Linked DNA regions of Homo sapiens: region 2 is linked to region 1. Evidence: fine-mapped expression QTL. Tissue or cell type: breast. Region 1 holds a variant in brackets; the other region holds the start of a gene. All regions are shown on one strand. Distances are between the middles of the regions.

Region 1 (10,078 bases):
ATACCCATGCTTGATCATCTTGCTTTATGTCCTAAACATGACAGCCATTATACTTCTGACCTACTTTTCTGCATTACTCAAACGTTTCTTTAATGAGATACAACATAATCAGTAATGATTCCAATAGTCATTTGCTTTTGGATAATTTCCTTTCCCTTCCTCTGATAAACTCTGAAATAAATTTGAGAACATTGAGTAATGGCAGAATTGGATATGGACCAAGCCCAATTAGTGTTTAAAAATTACACTGGTCCCTATCACATAGAATTAATCTTCTTTTCAGAGAGTACACACAACTGAAAATATTCTCAAAATGAAGTTATCTCCTTTATGACCCTGTAAACATGATTTGGTCTTTATGACTTGGAAACAAATATGAACGGGTCTTACCAACATATCTGGAAGAAATGAAATAGAAAATACTCTTAAGCATTAGTTTCATAACTCAAATTTAGTTATCAGATTGCTCAATAAATTATCTATGAGGACCTGGAGGAAAAGGAGTAAAGAGAAAAATGTTAGTATTCTGTTGGCAATGATGAAAAAAAAAAAAAAGGTCTTAAAGAAATGATGAAGCCAAACTGGGTGTGCCATAGAGAAGTGGACACTTTTAATCTTTCCCCAGATGAATGGAGTTCTTATTTCTACATCTGCATCCTCTTTGTCCTTAGCTCTGTTCTCTATATGATACTTTCCAACCGGTTGTTCATTGGTCTTCACTGTTTACCCTGCCACTTTAATTTACTATGTTCATTACTTATGTCGCTACTTCCAACTTTAAAAAATAATTTATTCTTGTAATTCAATCCTTCTCTTTAGTCTTTCATAGTTAGTTAGAATTTGTCAGTACTTGAATGGATGTCATCTTTTTTCTTCTTCATAGTGAATCATAAAAAAAATTATCAACATTGTGACAATTTATAAAGACGCCCTTTAAGTGCTATTTCTCTTTCTCTTTTGACACTTTTCTTCTCTTTCTACATTTCTCCTTTGACTCAGGATCTGTTCCTCCTCACCTTCTACATTGATTTCTCCAGTCACTTTAGTTCAAAACACAACAGGCATCCACTTATTTTCTATAGCCTTTATTTTAATTACTTCTCTAGATAACTCCCCCCATTTCTTCTTTCTTTCCCACTGAAATCTGATGAACTTTCCTATTCTGTCTGCTCTACTGAGCAAGGGTTCCCATTTCCAAAGAGATAACTTGCAACCTCCATAATGACTGTTTTCCTTCTACTTTTTGTCTTGCCACCACCAGAAAATGTCTTAATTTTACTTCTCCCTTGAGAAAGCTTTTCATCCTGTCTCCCTTCCTTTTAATAGTTTTTGGGTCTTCTTTGCATCGTACAGATGTTACCATTCAGTTTTTAAAGTTCCCCTTTCATTCTGAGCCCTTGAAACTGATCCAGCTGCATCTGTCTTTACTCATTTTGATTTATTATTGAGAAGTTTGCTCACCTTCTTTATTCTTTGTTCTTCTCCAAACAAATTTTGTGCATTACACTCTCTGCCTTGGTGTTTTCATTTAGAAAGTTGCCCCTGTGTTCTACATACCCTGGACTTTTTTTCAATTACAAATTATCTGAAGCTTTTCCCAATCTGTACTTGGCTATCTCTTACCAGATTTTTTTTTTTTTGTGGGGAACTCCCTTGTCATGTTACTACCTCAAATTAATATACCTCTGCTATGGTATACATATTGTGGTCCCCTAAAATGCATATGTTGCAATCCTAACCCTCAAGGTGATGTGATTAGAAATTGAGGCCTTTGGGAGGTGATTAGGTCATAGGTACAGAGGCCTCATGAATGGGATTAGTGTCTTACAAAAGAGGTGCCAGAGAGACCTCCCCTTACCCCTCCCTTCCATCATTTGAAGAAACAGCTAGAAGCCACCATCTGTGAACCAGAAAGTGGGCCCTAGTCACATGCTGAATCTGCTGGCACCTCAGTCTTGGAATTCATAGCCCCCAAATCTATGAGAAATACATTTCTATTATTTATAAACTGCTTAGTTTATGGCCTTTATAAAAAGTTGCCCTTGTGTTCTATATACAATAGCAAGCCGAATGGAATAGGACACCTCCTATCCAAATTTCAAACCAGTCCCTTGTTGTAATGTCTAGTATGTCACAGTGACTCTGGACTATGTCATAGGGCTGTTTATTTTCATCATCCCTCTAATACTGTGGAAACAAGTAGCCTTCTACATTGCTATTCAAAGTGTGATTCCTTTATTTGCGTTATTAACATTGCTCTAGTGCTTTTAAAAATGCACACAGTCAAGTTGAACTGCAGACTTTCTGAATTATAATCTGCATTTTAATACGATCTCTAGGTAATATTTTTACACAGTAAAGTGTAAGAGGCACTGGCAAACTACATATATGCAAACTGGAGGATACATGAAAATCACCTCAGTGAGTTCAAGTGTTTTGTGATCTGTGCCCAAATTGTGTTGCCTCAAAGTCTTTCAATTTCTCTTGGAATTCATGTATAGCTGTTTCTTTTGAAATACCTATACATGAAGTATTGTGGTTTCTATGTTTCTTCTCCTCATTCAAATTTAGCAAATACTCTCCTTCCTAGTATGCATTGTGATCATGTAGCTGAATCTCTTCCCATGCCTATGGACAAAGTAAGGCAATTATTTTATTTCCCATTTTGCTGACAGAAAAACTGAAAAGAGAAAATTATGATGTGATTTTCTTAGAGTCACCTAGATAATCACAAGTACAATAAAAACACATATGCAAGGTCCTTAACCCTTGGTTTAAAATGTGTTTCATTACTATGCTGTTGTTTGTTAAATGAATGTATAATCCTTTACCAATTTTTTCATTCATGTTAATTTTTAAATATTAGGACACTTGAATTCTGCATTATTGTCAAAAACTAATTGGAAATATAGTCACATCAGTAGCATTTTATCAAGTATAATTTGAGAGAAAGTAATAAAAAATTGAAGATTTATAAATCATATGCAAGAAAGAGTACCATATTTCTTTATAAATGCATAGAGCTTGGTGAAAAACATTCACAAGAGAAAATACATAAGTCCAGATATCTTTTGGAGAATATTACTAGAATAATTCCGTGATACATGACATCATCTTTCAACCTTTATCATCTCTTAATCCAGTTTGTCTTGACACTCTGTCCCACAACCCAAACATTAACTTGTTCACTTTCTCTTCAAATCAGTGAAAGTACAATAATTTTCCCCCCTTCCTCCATATGTCTTAAATATTTCTAAAATTGAAATTGGAGGGGTGGGTTTGGGGAAAAAATGGAAGCCCATTGAGGGACATTAAAAACTTTATGAAGGTTCACAAGAATTAAGAACTACTTATTTTCATAGGGGAGTGATAGTCTAATTTGAGAGTCCTAACAACTAGTCTCTTAGTAACTAGATAAATTTCTTTTTATTTTTTAAAAACTTTTATTTTAAGTTCAGAGTACATGTGTAGGTTTGTTATGTACGTAAAGTTGTGTCATGGAGGTTTGTTATACAGATTATTCCATCACCCAGGCATTAAGCCTAGTACCCATTAGTTATTTTTCCTGATCCTTTCTCTCCCCCTACCTCCCTGGGGTCTGGTAGACCCCAGTGTGTGTTGTTCCCTCCCTGTGTCCATGCATTCTCATTATTTAGCTCCCATATATAAGTGAGAACATGTGGTATTAGGTTTTCTATTCCTGTGTTAGTTTGCTAAGGATAATTGGCCTCCAGCTCCATCCATGTCCCTGCAAAGGACATGGCCTCATTCTTTTTCATGGCTGCATAGTGTTCCATGGTGTATATGTACTACATTTTGTTAATCCAGTCTATCAGTGATGGGTATTTAGGTTGATTCCATGTCTTGGTTCTCTTGAATAGTGCATCAATGAATATGTGCATGCATGTGTCTTTATAATAGAATTATTGATATTCTTTTGGGTACATAAATCCCAGTAATGGGATTGCTGGGTTAAATGGTATTTCTGTCTTTAGATCTTTAAGGAATTGCCACCCCGTGATCCACAATGGCTGAACTAATTTACACTCCCACTAACAGTGTATAAGTGTTCTTTTTTTCTCCACAATCTTGTCAGCATCTGTTATTTTTTGACTTTCTAAGTTTTATAACATAGTGATTTGCAAAATATTAGCTAGTAATTGTGGCATGTAAATGGAAGATGACATCTACAGCTGAAAGCAAACTGTGCTACTAATTCATAATTTAAAATATTGTTAAAATATTTCACTAGACTCTTCCATTTGTGTATTGCTCTTAAAAACTTTGTATCTTATGATGAACAATGTGGAAATTAATGTTACGGGCAAAATAAAAATCAAGGTGGCAGCATGTGGAATAAATATAGAATTTGGGGCATATGTAGAACTCAATTTGGCCTTTGTATCTGCTACTTATTGTGTGAACTTAAATAAGTAATAGAGTGACCTACTCTGCTGGATTTCCTTGGGATTTTTTTGGTTTTAAAAGTGAAAGTCCTACATCTATGAAACTCTTTTTATTTCAGGCAAACCAGGAGGGTTGTCCACCCTAATAAGTGGCTTAGACTTTCTAAGCATCAGGTCGTTCACCTGGAATTTATACATATGAGATAAGATTCAAATATATCTCTCCTTCTCTCTCT[A/C]TATATAGATATATACTCTACTCTACTACCTATAAATGTTAATTATCTAGAAGATACACCATGAATGTAATAGATAAATCACAGCTATAGGAGGGGATGATATAACAAACTGGGCAGCAGAATTTGCACTTTGAACACAAATTCACTAATACAAGTGGCTTCTCTAAAAACTCCTGGAGTAAAATGAAAATTTAAGTGGAAAACAAAATGCAATTTGATTTAGTAACAGTAGAAGGAGTCAAGAATTTGAGATATTTTGCAGTCTGAAAAACAGATTTTCAGTTTTTAAGAGTAGACAGTATTGGCAATACTATTTAGCCCACAATTGAAAGGAGGGAAATTGAATGTCATTTTTCACTGAATTTCCACAGAATTTCATGGTATATCTTCTTTAAACAAAGTAAAAAGGCATCTCCATGATTTATTTTCTGATCTTACTTAATCAAGTTTTAACAAGAGGTTTTCAGGAATGTGAAGACTCCTTATTTCTGTGGAAGAACTCCATTTATTCAGTTGTTCTTGCAGTCCTAGAATAAGGGCACACTGAACTCCTCCATGCCAGAAAATGAACCTGACATTGTGGGTGTATGATTATCATCCCTATCCTGGAGGAATTCATAACTTGAGGGGGAAGTCAGGTATGTAGTGAGATGGGTAAAATGCAATCTGATACATGCTAAATAGAATTCTGAACAGTACTGTGGAGACAAAAATGAAGAACAGCTATTGCCTAAAGGACTTTTCAGAGCTTGTGACACTTGAGTGGCGTCTTAAAGGATGAGTTAGGATTCACCAAACAGAACAGAATTAGAAAGGCTTTGCCACAAAAGAAACAGCATATTCAAATGCAAAAGAGTATGAGGAAGGCATCTCTTTTTGGGGGAGAGCAATGCTGGCAGAATGTTGGTTAGAAGATCAGAATGATAGAGAGAAATGCATTTGGAGAGACTTTCCTAACATTATTATTTTATAACACTAAGATCTTTAGCCTTTTTCTTGTAGTTGTTAAGGAAACATCAAAATTATTTAAAGAGAAAAGTGAGAAGCTTGGATTCTTGTATTTGAAAAAATAACTTTGGCAGAATGTGTTGGAAGGGTTAGTGTTATGAGGAAAACTACAGATAAAAAGTCTGGAGAGAAGTCTACTGTATTATTCAGAAGAAACATAAAAATAGCCAAAGCAAGCTAGTGATCATTGAGAAAAGGAAGAAAGTAGGGTTCAGATTGAGCGTTTTTCTCTAGGACTCTTCAAATCATTGACTGCAGAGGAATGGTAGGAGGCAGATTCATTTGGGCAACAGGTTGGATTGAGCATTTTAGGTGGAATTTCACTAGCTTGACCAATCCTTGTTGCATCAGGAGAGTCATAGAAGGAATCTGTGCTTGAACCTTGGGATACTTTGGGACCATTGCAACTTCAAAAGCCTGTAATTTAAAATAATATTATTTTATGCCTTTCTTTGTAATTTTGATCATTGTTGGTTTACAGTTGGTTTTGTCTCAAATAAGAACAGAAACCCCTGCTCTTTTTTGCTTTCCATTTGTCTGATAGATCTTTCTCTATCCCTTTACTTTAAGCCTATGGATGTCCTTGCATGTAAGATGGTTCTCTTGAAGACAGCATACAGTGGGGCCTTGCTTCTTTATCCAACTTGCCACTCTGTGCCTTTTAAGTGGGATGTTTAACCTATTTACATTAAAGGTTAACATGAGTATGTGTGAATTTGATCCTTTTATTGTGTTGTTAGCTGGTTATTATGTAGACTTGATTGTATATTTTCTTTCTAGTTTCAATAGTCTATGTATTTAAGTGTGTTTTTGTGGTGGCAGGTACCAGTCTTTCATTTCTGTGTTTAGTATGGAAATGACCTCTTGTAAGGCAGGTCTAGTGGTATTGAATTCCCTTAGTGTTTCCTTGTCTGAAAAAGATTTTATTTCTCCTTAGCTTATGAAGCTTAGTTTAGCCAGATATAAAATTTTCAGTTGGAATTTTTTTCTTTAAGGATGCTGAACATAGGCCCCCAATCTCTTCTGACTTTTAGAGTTTCTATTGAAAGGTCCACTGTTAGCCTGCTGGAGTTCCCTTTGTAGGTGAACTTCTCCTTCTGCTTACTTGTCTTTAATATTTTTTCTTTCACATTGGTCTTGGAGACTCTGATGACTACCTGTCTTGGGGATGGTTCAACTCAAAAAGAAGACTGAACTATTCTAAATATATATGCACCCAACACTGAGCACCCAGATTCATAAAACACATTCTTACATACCTACAAAGAGACTTATATAACCACACAATAATTATGGGAGACTTTAATACCCAACTGACAGTATTGGACAGATCATTGAGGCAGAATACTAACAAAGATATATGGAACCTAAACACAACAGTTGACCAAATGGAGCTAACAGACATGTACAGAACATTTGACTCAACAAAAACAGAATATACATTCTTCTCAATTGCACATGGCACATATTCTAAAATTGACTGCACACTCAGCAAGAAAGCAATTCTTAACAAATTTAAAAAAGAAAACCCTGAAATCATATGAACCATCCTCTTGGAACACAGTGCAATAAAAAGAGAAGTTAATACCAAATATCTCTCTCAAAACCATACAATTAAATGAAAATTACACAATCTGCTCCTGAATGACTTTTGGGTAAACCATGACATTAAGGCAGAAATCAATAAATTAGTCGAAACTAATGAAAGCAAAGATACAACATACCAGAACAATAAAGCAGTGTTAAAAGTTTTTATTTTATTTTATTTTATTTTATTTTAAAGTTCTGGGGTACTTGTGGAGGATGTGCAGGTTTGTTACATAGATAAATGTGTGCCATGGTGGGTTGCTGCACCTATCAACCCATCACCCAGCAATTAAGCCCAGCATGCATTAGCTATTTTTCTTAATGCTCTCCTTCCCCAACCACACGTGACAGGCCCCAGTGTGTGTTGTTCCCCTCCCCGTGTCCATATGTTCTCATTGTTCAGTTCCCACTTATAAGTGAGAACATGTGTTTAGTTTTCTGTTCTTGCATTAGTTTTCTGAGAATAATGGCTTCTTGCTCCATCTATGTCCCTGCAAAGGACATGATCTCATTTCTTTTTATGGCTACATAGTATTCCATGGCATATATGTACCATATTTTGTTTATCCAATCTATCGTTGATGGGCTTTTGGGTCGATTTCATATCTTTGCTATTTTGAATAGTGTTGAATTTAACATATCCGTGCATGTATCTTTATAATAGAATGAATATATTCCTTTGGGTATATATCCAGAAATGGGATTGCTAGGTCAAATGGTATTTCTGGTTCTAGATCTTTGAGGATTGCCACACTGTCTTCCACAATGGTTGAGCCAATTTACATTCCCACCAATAATGTAAAAGTGTTCCTATTTCTCCACCACCTCTCCAGCATCTGTTGTTTCTTGTTTTTTTATTTGCCATTCTGACTGGCGTGAGAGTATCTCATTGTGGTTTTGATTTCTGTTTCTCTAATGATCAGTTATGTTGGTTTTTTTTCATATGTTTGCTGACCACATGAATGTCTTCTTCTGAGAAGTATCTGTTTATGCCCTTTGCCCACTTTTTAATGGAGTTTTTTTTCTTGTAATTTGTTTAAATTCTTCGTAGATTCTGAATATTAGATCTTTGTCAGATAGGTAGATTGCAAAAATTTTCTCCTACTCTGTAGGTTGTCTGTTCACTCTGACGATAGTTTCTTTTGCTGTGCAGAAGCTCTTTAATTTAATTAGATACCATTTGTCAATTTTTGCTTTAGTTGCAATTGCTTTTGGCATATTCGTCATGAAATTTTTGCCTGTGCCTATGTCCAGAGTGGTATTACCTAGATTTTCTTTTAGGGTTTTTATAGTTTTGGGTTTTACATTTAAGTCTTTAATCTATCTTGAGTTAATTTTTGTATAAGTGTAAGGAAGGGGGCCAGTTTCAATTTACCGCATATGGCTAGCCAATCCTCCCAGAACCATTTATTAAACAGAGATTCCTTTCCCCATTGCTTGTTTTCTTCAGGTTTGTTGAAGATCAGATGGTTGCAGATAAGCAGTATTATTTCTGAGTTTTCTATTCTGTTCCATTGGTTTATGTGTCTGTTTTTGTACCAGTACTATGCTGTTTGGTTACTGTAGTCTTCTAGTATATTTTGAAGTAAGGTAGTGTGATGCTTCCAGCTTTGTTCTTTTTGGTTAGGATTGTCTTGATTATATGAACTCCTTTGTAGTTCCATATGAATTGTAAAATAGTTTTTTTTTCTAATTCTGTGAAGAATGTCAATTGTAATTTAATGGGAATAGCACTGAATCTATAAATTACTTCGGGTGGTATGGTCATTTCATGATATCTATTCTTCCTATCCATGACTATGGAATATTATTTTCATTTCTTTGTGTTCTCTCTGATTTCCTTGACAGTGGTTTGTAGTTCTCCTTGAAGTGGTCCTTCACTTTCCTTGTTAGATGTATTCATAGCTAATTTATTCTCTTTGTAGCAATTGTGAATGGGAGTTGATTCATGATTTGACTCTCTGCTTCTCTATTGTTTGTGTATAGCAATGCTTCTGATTTTTGCACATTGATTTTGTATCCTGACACTTCGCTGAAGTTGCTTATTAGCTTAAGAATCTTTTAAGCTGAGATGATGGAGTTTTCTAGATATAGGATCATGTCATCTGCAAAAAATGATAATTTGAATTTGTCTTTTCCTACTTGAATATGCTTTATTTCTTTATCTTGCCTGATTGCCCTAGCTGGAACTTTGAAAACTATGTTGAACAGGAGTGGTGAGAGAGGGCATCCTTGTCTTGTGCCAGATTTCAAGGGGAATGCTTCCAGCTTTTGCTCATTCAGAATGATATTGACTGTGGGTTTGTCATAAATGTCTCTTATTATTTTGAGGTATGCTTCTTCAGTTCCTAGTTTTTGAGAGTTTTTAACATGAAATGAAGTTAAATTTTATTGAAGGTCTTTTCTGCATCTATTGAGATAATCATTTGTTTTTTTTCTTTAGTTCTGTTTATGTGATGTATTATGTTTATTTATTTGTGTATGTGAACCAGCCTGGCATCTCAGGGATGAAGCCAATTTGATTGTCCTGGATTAGCTGGATTCAGTTTGTCAGTATTTTATTGAGGATTTTTGGATTAATGTTAATCAGGAATATTGGCCTGAAGTTTTTTGTTGTTGTTTCTCTGCGAGGTTTTGGTATCAGAATGATGCTGGCCTCATAAAATGAGTAGGGAAGAGTCCCTTCTTTTTAATTATTTGGAATAGTTGTACTTCTGATAGAATAGAGCTGTAAATCTATCTGGTCCAGGGCTGTTTTTGGTTGTCAGTCTACTTATTACTGTCTCAATTTCAGAACTTGTTATTGGTCTATTCAGGGATTCAATTCCTTCCTGGTTCAGT
Region 2 (10,078 bases), 21 kb before region 1:
TGCTTACAGAACCACTTTGAAAGAAAGTGCTTAACCAAACTGAGCCTTCTACCCTATCCCGAACCCCCTGCAGCTGCCATCATTTCAGAATAGAGAGCCACCCAACATAACAGAAAAAAAAACTTCAGCTTATCTTAAAATGAAGAACAACAATAGCAGATAGATTCTAAAGCTCTCTTAAATTTTAAAAAATTTGTTTTGTATTTGATATTCAGTGTATGATCTAAAGACAGGAATAAAACAAACAAACACACACACACACACACACACACACACACACATATTCATTCTGAAAGCTACAAACTAGACTACTGAAACAGAAGCTCCTTAGTGTGGAAACTTGGGGTTCACATTTAATAGAATCCCTCCATACAACTATTATGAACAGGATAGTTGAGAACCACTGGTTTGTACACTTTGAAGACTGTTCCTAAAAGTAATGGCCTCAAAATATAGTGCAATGAACAAAACAAAATAAAAAGAAGTAGCACAGGTAGGGGCAAATTCAGTTTATATGGCTTGAAGCTATAAATATTGAGGCTCTCTTTATGAAATAAAATAAAAAACTACAAATACAACATTAGATACAGTGTCTTTTGAGAAAATCTACTTCTGAGGCATGAACATTGAAGATAGCTTTGTTTATTACCAGCCTGGACTTGTTTCTGGGCTTTTCTGAGTTGAGAATAATGACTTCCTTCAGCTGCCAATTTCAAATGAGTTCAGTCCCTTATAAAACAGTGAAACACCCCACAGCTATAGGGGTATCATCCTCTTCACCTCTGACTACCTAGTGCATATGCAGTCCTGTGAAATGAATAGAGAAAACTGGACAAGATATTGAGATAGTAGGACAAGTATGCTTGCTGGCATCCTCTACTTTGCTCCAGCCTTTGCGGAGAAATCCAACACTCATTCACACACACGCAAGCTTTAATGAACATTTGTTGAATAAATAACTAAATGATGAATGAATGAATGAATGAGTGAATGGATGAATGAAAGCTGCTATCATAAAATACCTTGGTTGTATAGAATCTTAGAAGTGACTTGCTCTTTTGAGAACTTTAAATTTATTTACTGTATGTTAGGAAAAATATAATTAATTAAGCTGGGTGGAGTTTATGGCTAAGGACCTACTAGAGGAAGTGCCTTTTTGCAAAGCTTTGGAAGGAAGGAATGTGTGTTTATTGAAAAGTAACGATAAGGTTTCTGACTAGAAAACTGGGGCTTCAGGGGCTCTACAACTTCCCAAGATCACAGGTTCTTGGATATTGAATATTACACAAGATGTTAGAAATAAGATTCAAATCTCAAACTCTCTTATTTTATACCGGTTTTTTTTATTATATAATTTTAAGAATTAAAATATTTTTTCTATTTTGTAAAATTATGTGAAGACAAGTAACCTGTGTATTTTAATATTTTCCCCTTTGATAATATAATTTTTAATTTTATGCATTTATTTGTAAAATGTTTTACTAAGATCAAAAAGGGCTACATTTCCTGGTAACAGCCACAAGATTGTCTAAATCCTACCCTTCCTGCCCACAGTGTGAAAAATACGAGAACCCTAAATTATGCACATATACACATACATCATGCACACATGCAGTCATATATATGTATATATGTATATATGTGTATATATATACACTTGTACATATATCCAGTCATTTTCTAAAAAGCAGAACAAGGAATTTCAAAATAGATTTTAAATGTCACGTTTAGATGTTTGCTTATTCCACTATTTAAACATATGCAGGCCAGTACATAAAAATTAGCTACAAATTAGACCAATTTTTAAACTGAGCTGAAAACAACTGGGAACATTATGGGTACATAGGTTAAATAAGTAATTTATGCTTATTTTGTTTTTTTATCATGCCCTGTGTTAATTTTAATTAAACATATATCATGGCCAGGTGCAGTGGCTCACGCCTGTAATCTCAGCACTTTGGGAGGCCAAGACAGGTGCATCACCTGAGGTCAGGAGTTCGAGACCAGCCTGGCCAACATGGTGAAACCCTGTCTCTACCAAAAAAAAAACAAAACTTAGTTGGGCATGGTGGCACATGCTGTAATCCCAGCTCCTCGGGAAGCTGAGGCAGGAGAATTGCTGGAACCCAGGAGGCGGAGGTTGCAGTGAGCCGAAATTGCGCCACTGCACTCCAGCCTGGGCGACAGAGTGAGACTTCATCTCAAAAAAACAAACAACAAAATTTAATTAAACATAAATCAAAATAAACAAGGAATTAGCGGAAGTTACAGGTTAGATAAAGTGAGTTTAACAAATAATTATGAGTAGCTTTTTTCTTATTTTCTGCAGGGCACCATTATAAACTGGCAGTCCTGAAGGACCTTGTCTTAGAGTTGCTTATGGGAATAAAAATGCTTTATTGTGTGTGTTTGTATGTTTCTAAAGGAAAAAAGATCTATCCCCTTTTCTTGACTGGAAAAACCTGGGTTTAAGCCAACCTGATTTTACTCTATAAATATTTAAATCTCCTTTCTTTTCTCTAGTCATTTCTGATAATTCCTCTACTTTATACTGATAGTGTGGTAGACTCTGAAGACACATGTCGTAGGTGCATCTGGTGGTGACCGGGGTGCAATTTAAATTCACAAGAGCAACCCCAAATGGAGTGGGCGAGTGGCCAAATTACAAAGTTCTATGCATCCATAGGAATACACCAGATAATTAGGGATTCTAATTAGAAAAGTAATATATTATTATGGAATGAGCTCCAGGCTTCTGGAAGCTCATTTAAAATGTTAAGTTTCTTTGGAAGGTCTTTATGTTTTCTTTTCATTTGAAGACCCAAATTCCTTTTGCAAAAATCAGTTTTAACTTAAAACCTTTAACATGTCTGCCTTTAATTAATTTTCAGGGTTCAAGGACTGTACATTGTAGGTTTATCCTATCAATTTGATTCTCAAATCCTGGTAGATGTCCCCAAAAGAAGAAAAGAAAAAGCATAAAACTCCATACTCAAAAGTGCCCATTAGTCAGCTTTCACCATGCCAAGTTGTCAAGCGATATCACAGTTATGATCTTTAAAGCATTCAAAAAAAGCTGGAGAACTTTGTGTGAAGAGCTGGATTTTATGGCTTTTGTGTGTGCCAAAGGGATTGTCCAACAGAAAGTACCCTGGAAAGCCTAATTATTACTCCACATATAGTACGTGGCATTATAAGCTATTTTGAGGTTTTTGGAAAGGGAGAGCTATGAGTGACAACCACAGCAGGGCGTGCTGAGGAATTTAAACCCAACTCTATCATCTCCCTGTTGGCAGAACATAAAACACATAATGCTGTTTTAGTAATCAATCTTTCATGTATTTATTTTAAGGAAAAATAATTTCATTAAAACTTACAGAGTGGGAAAAGGAGTGATATAAAAGTCAACACAGTACATTTATATTCAATGAGAATTATTTTTTAAAACATTATGGCTGCTATTTACAAGGGTGGCGTTCGTTTTATACTTAAAATCACAGCAGCTTTTGTAACACTTTTTTTAGGAAATAATGAAAAATCTGATTTGGATTACGACTCAAGTTGAATATTTTTAAGAACTCTTTAATTCTTATACATGTCAGTTGTATAAACAAAATAATGTTGGGAGAATGAACTCAGAAACTTAGAAGCTATCAGTCATTTTTCAGATTTGCCTCTATGCTTTGTTATTCTATTATGTTTGAAAGGGTCTTCAGACAGAGATGAGAATTTAAAGACAATAAATGAAGAGCATTGTTTTATGATTGTGACTTCAATATGCAAGTCTAGTGAGAACTATCTCTAAGTCAGATTTGTGGATATGTCAGTACTGTTTAAAATGAAATTCAGCTGTCTCCCCTCTCCATCCTGGAAGCATTTTATACGTCAGCATTGTCTACTGTTTAGTTGCAGAATATTTTGCTCAGTGGTCATTATAACTTTGGAGGGCACGCCTTAATGCCTAACATGTGTAAAAGGTATTTACCTATAGTAACCAGTAATTTTACTTACATTTTCTCCCAAGCATTGTGGAATCTCAAAAGCCTTCGACTCTACGCTTCAAGTCCAAAAAAACTAAGCAGATTTGTGATACCACTTCTTTTTCATGGTTCTAGATAAAACAAGTAAGAATTTTCTTTCTAGTAAAATAAATGGATTTGCTTCTCTGGTTTTCTACTCTAAGTACTAAGAAAAAGGGAGGTACAATACTTAAAGTTAAGGATTATTGTAACTAGGATAGAATAAATAGAAACAATTAATTTTCCCCGTAGATCTATATCCATGACCAAGGATAAATGAAAACTGTGACATTAGGATTTGAGACAGTGTTTTGCTATTTTGTGGTTATTTCAGACTTACTGTTTTAAAGCAAAATCAACTTATTACCATTTTGAAAATGAGAAAAACCAAATCCAAGTTTTGATTCAGACTTTACTAATAGTTCTATGTCACATGATTAATAAACCTCTGGGGGATATAACTTTTAAATATTATAATAAAAATAAATGATATTTGGCTTTTTGTTTTTCCCTTTGAGGGTGAAATAGAGCTAATGGTCTTTGAATCTGACCTCTTTGCTGCTATTCCCATTTTTTCCAAAAGGTGGCGCATGTGTAATCTTTTTCTTTATCAGGGTGCAAAGAACCTGGGGAGCCAGAGGGACCTGAGTGAATTTTCAGAATTGTTTTTCTTCAACAAACTCAAGGTGGCCACATCAGAAATCTGCATTTCTGCAATGGCAGTTTCTTTATGCTCAAAGAACCCTTCAAATAAGAATTAATCTGATTTTGTGAAAGAAAAACATGCTTCCTATGCTTCCCATCTTAGTTTGGTTTAAACTTTGGAGTTCTTTTTGCCAAGTTTATTTTATAATGTTTTTCTTCCTTTCTGATCTTAGACTAAAGTTCTATTTTTTTAAAGATAACCTTGACTCATGTGGAGTTGTCCTTCTTAATTAGAATTCATAAGCAACACACAAGTATGTCTGGACTCTGTCTAAACAAAGCTCTTTGACAGCACAAATGCAGAAGGATAAATCTATCAGACAGGAGAAATCTTTTGAACTATGGGCAGATAAGAGGGAGTCAGAAGTACAGAGGGAAAGGAAAACATGTTGGAGAGATTCTGATGATGAGACAGGAATTCACAGATGAGACCTAAAATCAAACACACAGTTTTTCCCAGCAATTCACTTAAATGTGCTTCCAAACTCTGTAGCTGAAAGAAAAATTTAAATATGATCTAACGAAGTCCAACCACTTCACTTTACAGATGAGGAAACCAAGTCCCAAAAGATGAAGCCATGTATTTAGTGAAACACAACTGAATTCTGTTCTGTTTCTGGTGAAATAATACAAGAATCTGTCAAAGAGGTGTGTTAAGTCACAAGTTGCAGAAAGCAAGACTTAATAGTTTTGAAAATTGTAGTCTTTTAAATCATGATTCTTTTTTATTTAGGCTTGTATTATTTTGGTCACTATGCTGTTTTAGACACTCTCCTCTGCTCCACAGATGAATATGGTCATTCATTAGCCATTAAGTTGTAGATCTGTGCTGTCCAATGCAGTAGCCATTGGCCACTTGAGTATTTCATTGAATTTTAAACTAATTTAAATGAAATGAAATGAAAAATTTAGTTCATCCATTGCACTAGCCGTATTTCAAGTGCTTAGCAGTTGCATGTAGCTAGTGGCTGCTATTTAAACAGGGCACATATACAGGCATAATTGTACTTCACTTTATTGTGCTTTGCAGATATCGCATGTTTCACAAATTGAAAGTTTGTGGCAACTCTGCATGGAGCAAGTCTATTGGTGCCATTTTCCAACAACATGTGCTCACTTCGTGTCTCTGTGTCCCATTTTGGTGATTCTCACAATATTTCAGACTTGTTATTTCTGTTATGGTGAACTGTGATCAGTGATCTTTGATGTTACTGTTGTAATTATTTTGGAGTGCCATGAACCACACTCATATAAAACAGTGAACTTAATAGTAAATATTGTGTGTGTTACGATAGCTCCACCAACTGACCCTTCCTTCATCTTTCTTCCTCTCCTTAATTTATCTCCCTCTCCTTGGGCCCCCCATTTTCTGAGACACAACAATATTGAAATTAGGCCAACTAATAACTCTAAAATGGCCTCTAAAATGATCAAGTGAAAGGAAGAGTCACATGTCTCTCACTTTTAATCAAGAGCTAGAAATGATTAAGCTTAGTGAGGAGGGCATGTTGAAAGCCAAGACAGGCTGAAAGCTAGGCCTCTTGTGCCGAATAGTTAGCCCAATTGTGAATGCAAAAGAAAAGTTCTTAAAGAAGATTAAAAGTGCTACTCCAGGTCAGGTGTGGTGGCTCACCCCTGTAATTCTAGCACTTTGGGAGGCCGAGGTGGGTGGATTGCTGAGCTCAGAAGTTCAAGACCAGCCTGGGCAAAATGCTGAAACCCCACCTCTACTAAAATACAAAAAAATTAGCTGGGTGTGGCAGCGTGCACCTGCAATCCTAGTTACTTGGGAGACTGAAGCAGGAGAATTGCTTGAACCTGAGAGGCGGATGTTGCAGTGAGTCGAGATTGCGCCATTGCACTCCAGCCTTGGGGACAGAGTGAGACTCTGTCTCAAAAAGAAACAATCCATCAATCAATAAAAGTGCTACACACACATGTATACATATGTAACTAACCTGCACATTGTGCACATGTACCCTAAAACTTAAAGTATAATAATAATAAAATAAAAAAAAGAAAAAGAAGCTAGAAGAAAAAAAAAAGGTGCTACTCCAGTGAACACAGAAATACGAGAAAGTGAAACAGCCTTATTGCTAGTATGGGAAAGATTTTAGTGGTCTGGATAGAAGATTAAACCAGCCACATCATTCCCTTAGACAAAAGCCTAATCTAGAGCAAGGCCCAAACTCTCTTCAATTCTATGAAGGCTGAGAGAGGTAAGGAAGTTGCAGAAGAAAAGTTTGAGGCTAGCAGAGGTTGGTTCATGAGGCTTAAGGAAAGCAACCATCTCCATAACATAAAAGTACAAAGTGAAGCCACGGTGCCAAAGCAAGTTATCCAGAAGATCAAGCTAAAATAATCCATGAAGGTGACTACGTTAAACAACAGATTCTCAATGAAGATGAATGTCTTCTATTGGAAGAAATGCTGTATAGGACTTGCATACCAAGAGAGGAGAAGTCAATGCCTGGTTCAAATCTACGAGGGACAGGCTTACTCTCTTGTTAGGGGTTAGTGCATCTTGTGATTTTAATTTGAAGCCAATGCTAATTTGCCATTCCAAAAATCTTTGGGCCCTTAAGAATTATGTTAAATTGGCTCTGCCTGTGTTCTGTAAATGCAACAACACAGCCTGGATGGCAGTACACCTGTTTACAGCATGGTTTACTGAATATTTAATCCCACTTTTGAGATCTATTGCTCAGTAAAAAAGATTCATTTAAAAATATTACCGTTCATTGACAATGCACCTAGTTACTCAAGAGCTCTGTTGAAGATGTACAAGGAGATTGATGTTGTTTTTATTCCTGCTAACACAACATTCATTCTGCAGCTTATGGATCAAGGAGTAATTTTGATTTTCAAGTCTTGTCATTTAAGAAACACATTTTGTAAGGCCATCAATGCCATTAACTGATTCCTCTGATGGATCTGGGAAAAATAAATTGAAAACCTTCTGGAAAGGACTTATCATTCTAGATACCATCCATAACATTCATAATTCAAAATGTCAAGATTAACAGGAGTTTATTCATCCATCCGTCATAGATGACTTTGAGAAGTGCAAGATTTCACTGGAGGAAGTTAACTAGAGATTAGGATTAGAAGTAGAGCCTGAAGATGTGACTGAATTGCTGCAATCTCATAATAAAACTAACAAATGAGAAGTTACTTTTTGTAGATGTTCAAAGAAAGTGGTTTCTTGAGATGGAATCTACTCCTGGTGAGGTTGCTATGAATGTTGTTGAACAGAGGACTTAGAATATTGCATAAACTTAATTGATAAAGCAGCAGCAGGGTTTGAGAATATTGACTCCAGTTTTGAAATAGTTCCACTGTGGGTAAAATGCTGCCAAACTGCATCACATGCTAGATAAATCTTTTGGGACACGAAGAGTCAATCAATGGGGCAAACTTCATTGCTGTCTCATTTTAAGAAATTTCCACAGGCATGTCAACCTTCAGCAACCCCACCCTGATTGATTAGCAGCCATCGACACTGACACAAGATCCTCCACTGGCAAATAGATTATGATTCGCTGAAGGCTCAGATGATTATCATTTTTAAGCAATACAGTATTTTAAAATTAATATATGTAGATTTTTTAGACATAGTGCAACTTCACACTTAATAGACTGTAATATAGTTTGCAAATAACTTGTATATGCACTGGAAAACTGAAAAAATTGTGCATCTCACTTTCCTGTAATATGTGCTTTAAAATGAAAATTACAATATCTCCAAGATATGCTTGTAGAACTTCCCATCATTGCTGAAAGCTCTCTTGGACAGCAGTGTTATAGATTGATCATTAATTGTAGAGAGTATAAAGAGAGTATAACACAAGGTCAGTTACATAGTGTGATAGGCTAATCCAGTGTGTAATAGCTGAAAATATTTGTTTCATAATTTGTTTGGGTTCATAAGAAAATTTACAACCAGCCATGGAAAATTATCAGGTTAATGTCTTCTTATGCCTTCTCCCACTCTGTTTCTTCTCTACTTTGGACTTCTCTAATACTTTTCACTTTTTAGAGTTCACAACAAATCTTTTTGAGTACTCTATTTATTTCCTCTTGTGTGTGTTATACAATTATACAGTTATACAAATTTTGCAGTGTCTGTTAAATGTGTACTGTACAACAGGCACTGTACCAGGCAACTAAAAAGGAAGACACAGAAGATGCTATATAATAATAAACCAGGCAGGAGCAAACACATCTCCAGAGTTCAACCGAGATAGGAATGATCTCCTCAGACCATTTGAAGTAGCAAAAGCAAGTATTATTAGCTTAACTGTGTATATGATGAGATGGAAGTTTATTCTGAGGGGTGAAGTGACTTGCCCAAAATAATACAGAAGATAGCTGGGTACAGTGGCTCATGCCTGTAATCCCAGCACTTTGGGAGGTGGGAGGATCACCTTAGGTCAGGAGTTCGAGACCAGCCTGGCCAACATGGCGAAACCCTACTAAAAATATAAAGATTACCCAGGCATGGTGGTGGGCGCCTGTAAGCCCAGCTACTCAGGAGGCTGAGGCATGAGAATTGCTTGAACCTGGGAGGGGGAGATTGCAGTGAGCCGTGATTGCGCCACTGCACTCCAGCCTGGGGGATAGGGTGAGACTCTGTCTCCCGAAAACAAAACAAACAACAACAATAAAAATACAGAAGATAAAAAACATATCTTCAAACTGGAATACATGTTTTTAACTTCAAGTCCAATATGTCCAATGCACTTTCTAATCTCTCTATTACCAACCCCATGGTAGAGATTGGTTTATGCCAACTTTCTAATTTTTTCCAACATCTTCCAAGGAACTATCGAATAAGTCGTGCCTTGTATATATATCGACATTCTCTTTTTTGTAAGTTCAATTTTTAGAATTTTCTTGAATAAAGACAGAATTATATTTGTGTTTTTTACCCAGACTTCTCTTCGGAGCTCTAAACTAAGTGGTAAAACGCTCCTGGGTTGAACTGATCTGTGCTTCCTGATGTTCCATCAATACATTGAAAATACTTTGAAATCTTAGGGGTTGTCAGAACTTAAACACAAATGAATGCTCTTTCTATATAGAAAGCAATACCATATATCTATAGAGAAAGATAATTCATTTATGTTTAAGATCCATATACATATATGCATATATATGTGTATATATATTATGCATATATATGGATCTAATTCTTGTCGATTGGCAGATGGATGGGATTACACTGTGTGCAGGCAATCGGAGCAGCGTCAGTAACCCGCAACTTTTCAGTTTGGGCACTTCCCATGACTTTCTGCATAAAAGCATGATCCGTTTAGGCACACCCAAATCCAGATGTTATCCTAATTCTGGGT

The links.
Region 2: it holds the start of LINC02823, and the variant in region 1 is fine-mapped to the expression of LINC02823 in breast (GTEx, PIP above 0.99).

Annotation. Positions count from the first base shown.
Region 1 is chr12:91,299,787-91,309,864 of GRCh38, reverse strand. The region is part of intron 8 of LOC105369896 (a long non-coding RNA gene); the gene reads left to right. LOC107984544 (a long non-coding RNA gene) reads right to left here and starts at 478. Exons shown (of 3, transcript XR_001749252.2): 1 at 391-478. The variant A/C (reference allele first, on the strand shown) is at 4,643.
Region 2 is chr12:91,321,154-91,331,231 of GRCh38, reverse strand. LINC02823 (long intergenic non-protein coding RNA 2823) reads right to left here and starts at 4,306. Exons shown (of 4, transcript NR_183611.1): 1 at 4,012-4,306. All of the region lies in intron 8 of LOC105369896 (a long non-coding RNA gene), which reads left to right.